2 linked regions of the Homo sapiens genome follow. The gene in region 2 interacts genetically with the main gene of each other region. Each region holds a gene or a part of one and is shown on either strand. Other genes may lie near its edges.

What was found. Genes that interact genetically often act in the same process or in processes that back each other up.
Region 1: changes in RBM26 (region 2) and GBF1 together harm fitness more than expected from each alone (negative genetic interaction), as found in Homo sapiens cells (one study listed by BioGRID).

What each region holds. Positions count from the first base shown.
Region 1 is NC_000010.11:102,360,532-102,364,031, reverse strand, and holds part of GBF1 (Golgi-specific brefeldin A-resistance guanine nucleotide exchange factor 1), read right to left. Parts: intron 3,011-3,500; coding exon 2,912-3,010; intron 2,315-2,911; coding exon 2,120-2,314; intron 1,558-2,119; coding exon 1,368-1,557; intron 777-1,367; coding exon 636-776; intron 323-635; coding exon 234-322; intron 1-233. UniProt on the Homo sapiens protein: Guanine-nucleotide exchange factor (GEF) for members of the Arf family of small GTPases involved in trafficking in the early secretory pathway; its GEF activity initiates the coating of nascent vesicles via the localized generation of activated ARFs through replacement of GDP with GTP.
Region 2 is NC_000013.11:79,357,756-79,361,255, forward strand, and holds part of RBM26 (RNA-binding protein 26), read right to left. Parts: intron 1,932-3,500; coding exon 1,820-1,931; intron 679-1,819; coding exon 519-678; intron 1-518. UniProt on the Homo sapiens protein: May be involved in the turnover of nuclear polyadenylated (pA+) RNA.

The DNA of each region.
Region 1 (3,500 bases), on a different chromosome or scaffold from region 2:
CAACTGGTACAGCATTTGCGCAGGGGCATACATAGGGTATGCTCAACTACATAGCTTAGGAGTAAGGGAAGGGCTTCAAATGGGAGTTGCTGAAGTCCCAACAAGCCCAAAGACTGGCCTCAGGAAGCTGTACAATGAGGTGCTAGACTCTCCTTCATCTTCTGAGATGGAAACCCTACAACACTGGACACCCAGACAGAGGTGGACAGAGGCTGGGGAATACATGTATGTACCTTCTTTTTGTTTTTAATTTCAATTAGTTCCCGTGGATCTGGCAGGAGACAGGAAAATCGGGGTGGCTTCCGGGCAAACTTTTTGTCAGCTAGGAGTAGGAAGAAGAGGGGGGAAATATCTGTAACACCTTTTTTTACCCAGATAAGGACTTTTGGAAGGTCACCAATATACTCCCCAGTTTCAAGAAGGAGCCTCAGAAATCTTGTCCTCACCAGTCTTCCACTTCCCTGGAAGTCCTATCAACTGAGGGTCCATATGTTTGCTTCCCTCTCTCTGAGTCTGAAGGCGAGGCGGGCTACCAAGGCTTGCTTAGTTACTATCCTAGGTGTCTGCTCCCTCCCTCTGCTCTTCACCAGGCCCTCCAGGTGAGGAGCTTAGGGTCATGGACACCCAGTACCCACCCCCAGAGTCAACAGCTTCCTCCAGATCACTGCATCCTGATTTCCCATGTTCTGGTGGCAGCCGCCCTCCACCTGGCAGATGCAGGCCTGGGATGTCTGAGGCCATGCCTACAGCTTTCCCATCGCTGGCAGTTCTCTCAGCTGGTAAGAGAGAAGAAGATACGTGAAGACTTATAGGGTATGAAGCCAAGCAGAGCTGCAGGATAGATCAAATCCCAAGCCCAGAAGACCTGCATGGTTCCTGCACAGGGCGCCAGCCCTGAGCAGGACAAACCCAAGCCAAAATAAGTAGTCCCTGTCCCAGCCAAGCATTAGATTCTCTAATTTAATGAAGAGATTACCCAGTCACTTTCCCTGATCTTCTGCAACCTCAAATTTCAAGGGGGAGCTAGAGAGGACTAATTAGAGTGGAGGCAGATATTGGGGATGAGGGATGGTGGGACCTGGAGCTTTCAGAGACAGAAATCCTATATTCTTTAATCTCTGTTCTCTTCTCTTGCCATAAAGAAATAATAATTCTGTAAAAAACCAAAGTGGGGAGGAGGAAAAAGGGAGAAGGCTATGAGTTCTACTAATCTGCCTGACTGGCCTGTGATTTAAACTGCCAAAGCCCAGAAACAGAATTGGGAGCATCCCAGGGGAAGTGATATGGGGACAGGAAAAACGACTCAGAGAGTAGAGAAGGGATAAGCATAGAACACTGGGTTCATCAAAGAAAGAAATGCCTCTCACTATTGCTAGCTTCTCGGGTGCCATCTACTATCTCACAGCTTGGTCTGGCTGTCTCCTTCTTCTCTTGCTGGGTGAGGCTGTTGAGGACTTTAGCCTGGCAGTGGGCCTCGGTGCTGTCAATCACTGTCAATAGGGCATCAAGAGATAGTAGGTGTGTTGTATAGAGTTGACCAGACACAGGGAAGGCATTCTGGAAAGTAAACAGATCAATTGGACTTGTAGTTAGGAGAACACTTTACACTTTGATCATTTTCTAAAATTTCCAAAACTTCTTCTAACTTGTACATTGCCCTTAGAAAACGTCTTTCTGGCCGGGCGTGGTGGCTCATGCCTGTAATCCCAGCACTTTGGGAGGCCGAGGCGGGTGGATCACAAGGTCAGGAGATCGAGACCATCCTGGCTAACATGGTGAAACCCCGTCTCTGCTAAAAATACAAAAAATTAGCCGGGCGTGGTGGTGGGCACCTGTAGTCCCAGCTACTCGGGAGGCTGAGGCAGGAGAATGGTGTGAACCCGGGAGGTGGAGCTTGCAGTGAGCCGAGATCGCGCCACTGCACTCCAGCCTGGGCAACAGAGTGAGACTCCATCTCAAAAAAAAAAAAAAAAAAAAAAAAGAAAAGAAAAGAAAATGCCTTTCTTCTATTTCCCAGCTCTCAAGTGTTCCCCTCTCTGTATGTAACATCCTCACTACCACCAGGGAGATTTCCTTTATAATGCGTTTTTTCCTAGAAGCCAGTTATAGTGCTCAGCACCTTGGACAGCAGCTTTGTGAGTTCCTCAAAGAGGTTGGAACAGTAGTAGTCACAATCATAGTTGATGTAGAGCTCTGTGACAAAGCTGGGGATGCGCCAGAGCTGCACAATGGCCTCCAGTGCCATCTCCTTCATCTCATAAGGCATCTTGGGGTTCTCCACAGTGATGATCTCCATAAGCTTTTTGATGTACATCTGGCAATAACCCAGTAATTGCCATTTGGGTGGGGAAAGGATTCAAGATAGGAAGAGAAAAAATTAGACAGGAAAAACATTAAACAGGATGCAGAAGCCCAGCCTAGAGGCATGTATTAAGAGACACCCAAAGGTATTCCATCCCCTAAATATATCTCTTCTTTGGCCTCCATGTTGGGGGATAAGGCCTGGCTCTCTACCACATACCTGGTCCCAGACAAGTTGCCTCTTGCCCTTTTGTGCTATGTGAACATGACCTGGTCCTATTTAGAGTTCCTTTTAGCAATTTAGTGACAATGCTGGCTTGACTTACCTACCTGTGTTGCAGAGTAACTGCTGGGCAGAAGAGCTGTCCCTATTCATGGTAAGGTTACCTGGCAGTTCTCATATTTGGGGTCAGCCAGTTTCCTTTGGTCTCCTTTTAACTTTTCCACAAAAGAGGCCAGTTGATTGAACCGAACTCTGGAGGCTAAAAGGACTCTCCTATAGGAAGTCCCTAAATCCTACCCCTGTAGCATGATAGAGCTGGCCCCACTGAAGATGCCATATATCTCCCTATTTTTTTTCCCCCTTTTCTTTCCACATCAAGAAACTCACCTCCATTTGGAACTTGAGGTGCTCTCGCATGCTCTCAAACAGTAGGAAGCATACTCGCAGGGAAGCAGCATAAAGGTTTAGTCGCTCTATGCTGAGTAGCTGGAGATGAGAGCAGGGTAGGCCATGAGTTTTTTTTTTTTTTTTTTGAGGCGGAGTTTCACTCTGTTGCCCACGCTGGAGTGCAGTGGCGCAATCTCAGCTCACTGCAACCTCTGCCTCCTGGGTTTAAGATATTCTCCTTCCTCAGCCTCCCAAGAAGCTGGGATTACAGGCGCACGTCACCATGCCCAGCTAATTTGATATTTTTAGTAGAGACTGGGTTTCACCACATTGGTCAGGCTGGTCTCAATCTCCTGACCTCGTGATCCGCCCGCCTTGGCCTCCCAAAGTGCTGGGATTACAGGCGTGAGCCACTGCACCCAGCCCGGCTGTGAGGTTTCTGAAGCTGACTATGGCTCAACCAAGAGAGGCAGAAGAGGCAAACTGAGTGAAGGTGTCACTGAGGTCCATTGCTTCCAGGGAACTCTACATCTAGCCATTCCTATATTTCTCTCTGGCTGCCAGAGTCCCTGGGGAACTACTGGAACCC
Region 2 (3,500 bases):
TTTATGACAACCTTTATTAGGTAAAAAGTTTATGATAATATGATCAATTGAAACACTAAAAATTGTATTTTTTCCTAAAAGGTAGAGTTCCATTTCATGTCCAATTTTCCCAATTCAGAATAACAATTTTTTTTTTTTTTTTTTGAGACAGAGTTTTGCTCTTGTCACCCAGGCTGGAGTGCAGTGGCGCAATCTCGGCTCGCTGCAACCTTAGCCTCCCAGATTCAAGCAATTCTCCTGCCTCAACCTCCCGAGTAGCTGGGATTACAGGTGCCTGCCACCACACCGAGCTAATTTTTGTATTTTTAGTAGAGATGGGGTTTCACCAGGTTGGCCAGGCTAGTCTCGAATTCCTCACCTCAGGTGATCCGCCCGCCTTGGCCTCCCAAAGTGCTGGGATTACAGGCGTGAACCACCATGCCCAGCCTTAAAATATTTATTTATAAAGGTAGTTTTCTTATTACATTAAGTTCCCTAAACAGAAAGAAGAGATAACAAAACCATTTCATGGCTCTTACCTGTAAGTTAACCAAGGTTCCAAATCGACTAAAATGTTCATTAAGTTTGCTGATATTATTTAATTCTGGAGGAACTTTTCTAAGTTCAAGCTTGGTATTTTCATTTCCAAATTGAACCTTCTTCTGAAAGCCTGGGCTGTTTGTTCTATTAAAATTTGGTCTGCAAACAAAATTCAAGTTAGTCAATACATTTATAAATCCTGACCCTAACCAAATACAAGGGAATAAAGTTTAACAAAATAGATATCCAATTAAGTTCAATTTTCCCCCAAACTGAAATTACTGGTTGATAAAGGAAATTTAAATTTTCTTCCAACAATGAAGTTTCCAAATGAACACTGTTAGTATCTTTCATGGAAGCCAACTGAGAAGGGTTCTGCCATATCATTTGTTACTTTCCACTTCTGATCCACCTCTACTTAACATTCCTATCAGGAAAAGTCTCAATATCCTCTTTTAGTCAATTTGCATATATAACCTTTATTCTGATTCTGTAAAAGTCAGCTTACTAAAAAATATCCTATCTTAAAACTTTATGTTTTAAATTTGATTTTAAATTTTATTTTCTTTGATGACAGTCTCAACCTCTTTCCCGCTTTATTTAAAAAAAGAAAAAAAGAATTGTTGGAACTATAAAGAATACATTTTGACACTTGAAGAAAGGACAAAACTGTGGCCTAGAGAGGTTACTCTGCATTAAATCACAGAATTAATCACAAACAACTAGAAACTATCCATTATTAAGTAGATGTTAAAGCTCTAAAAGTGATCCTAGTCTCTCTTCACAGATTTATTTATAAATGAATCACCTCACACATATCTTAACATTCTGATTCCTTACCCCTTTATCTGAAGCTCTTTCTTGACCATTCAATGCCTAGACAGCCTCTCCAACCCCCACAAAAGCCCTTTCTAGCTCCTACCTAGCAGGAACTGCCTACATATGAAAGTCTCTTGACAGGTCTGATCTATACCTCCTTCCTCTAATGATGAGAGGCTCATGACTATCCTGTATATAGCTAGTATTCAACAGGTCTAAGTTAAAGAGTGGGTTTTTTGGAGGAGGGTAAATGATAAGAGGAAAAAATTATGCCCTGAACTACCACACCATTTCTGTAAGAAAATGCTTTTCTAACATCAGACAACTAACTTGCCAATTTTTAGAAAACTCACACTTGGGGATTGCTTACAGAACAGAGTAACATTTTTGGAAGAAACCAAACCATATTGTCATAATAATACAGAAATGATCCTGAAAATCAATGCACAATTATACTCCTCAATTTTCCTGGCCACCTTACTTATCAAACCAAGTCTTCTTTGTAGGAACTCCAGGCTCTCCAGAACCAATGGTTCTTTTCCTTGATTCTGAGTCCACTACTATCCTCATACTGCTTTTATTGGGAGGCTTTTCTGTTTTAAAACAAAAGAAAATGAAAAAAATAAGCATAGGTTAATATTTTCTATTTATCATAGATACCTTCCTCATACAGGAAAATTTCTGGCTTTTGTCTAAATATATATATATATATATAATTTTTTTTTTAGAAGAAATAGAAATAAATGTATAGTAGCTCCCCCTTATCCAGTTTCATTTTTACGATTTCAGTTATCTCTAGTCAACCACAGTCCAAAATTATGGAAAACTACAGAAATAGTAAACAATTCCTAAGTTTTAAACTGCCTGCAGTTCTGAGTAGTGTGATAAAATCTCACACCATCCTGCTCCAACACTTGATCTCATCATGTAGGCATTTTATCATCCCCTATCATCCCAAGAAGGGTAAATACAAAAAGATATTTGACAGAGAAAGACAGGGACCATTCACATAACTTTTATTATAGTATATTGTTATAATTATTTCATTTTATTATTAGACATTGTTGTTTAGCTCTTACTGTGTCTAATTTATAAGTGAAACTTTATCACAGGTGTGACTGTATAGGAAAAAGCATAGTATATGTAGGGTTTGGTACTCTGTGGTTTTACACACGAGGAGTCTTGGAACATATCACCCACAGACAAAGGGGAATTACTGTACATTCAAATACAGTAATCTAAGGGTTTTTTCAAACTTATTTCAACATATTCATTTCACAATTAACTATGAAAAAGAATCAATTCTCACATGCCAAATTAAAATGTGATTCTGTAGGTCACTTCTTTGTAGATAAAACCCAAGTCATTGTTCCCATCTACCATCACCCTCACCACAAATATATATATATATATCAATGCACAAATGAGAAAATAATCACTTTGAGGCTTTAAGTTCATAGTTTTGAAATCAAATGCACAATCTAAAAGATTCAAAACTTTACACTAATCCAATAATCTTTGAGAAGTGAAAGGTTAGAGTTATGATTGAAGTGAGCTGCTTTTAAATATGGAATAGACTCATAAAATATGAATGTAATGAAAGCATACTTGCTTTAAAAAAGGAAAAGATTCAAGTCTAAAATACAGTGTAAAAGAGCTGTAAAAGTCTGTTACTTTCAACATTTTATATTTACTTACATGGCATGTAATGAGCATAGTACATTTAACCTGTTATTCCCAAATGACTCCAAAGTTTAAAACATGCAAACCTTAATCCACATAGAAAAATGTAACTTAAAAACTCCTTTTTTATAGATGGCAAAATTGATTTGTCTAAAATCCTATTTTTACATATTTCTAAACACCTAACTAACCAAAAGAACTGAAGATCTGTTTCAGCACAATATCTCTCATGGCCACAGCTATGGTCTCCTGCAGGAGGAGAGCATATACTCAATTCTAAATTTTCAACTTCTTTGTTCTCTCTGGAAATCCTACAGGTATCTCAAAACTCACTATGCAGAACGTTCAAATTATTTTCATATTAAGTCTATCTTTTATTTTTCTTAAACATTTCTATTAATGAAACTACCATTTTCCCAATCATCCCAGTCAAGTCATATTTGATATATGACTACCCACATATGCCATACATACAGAGA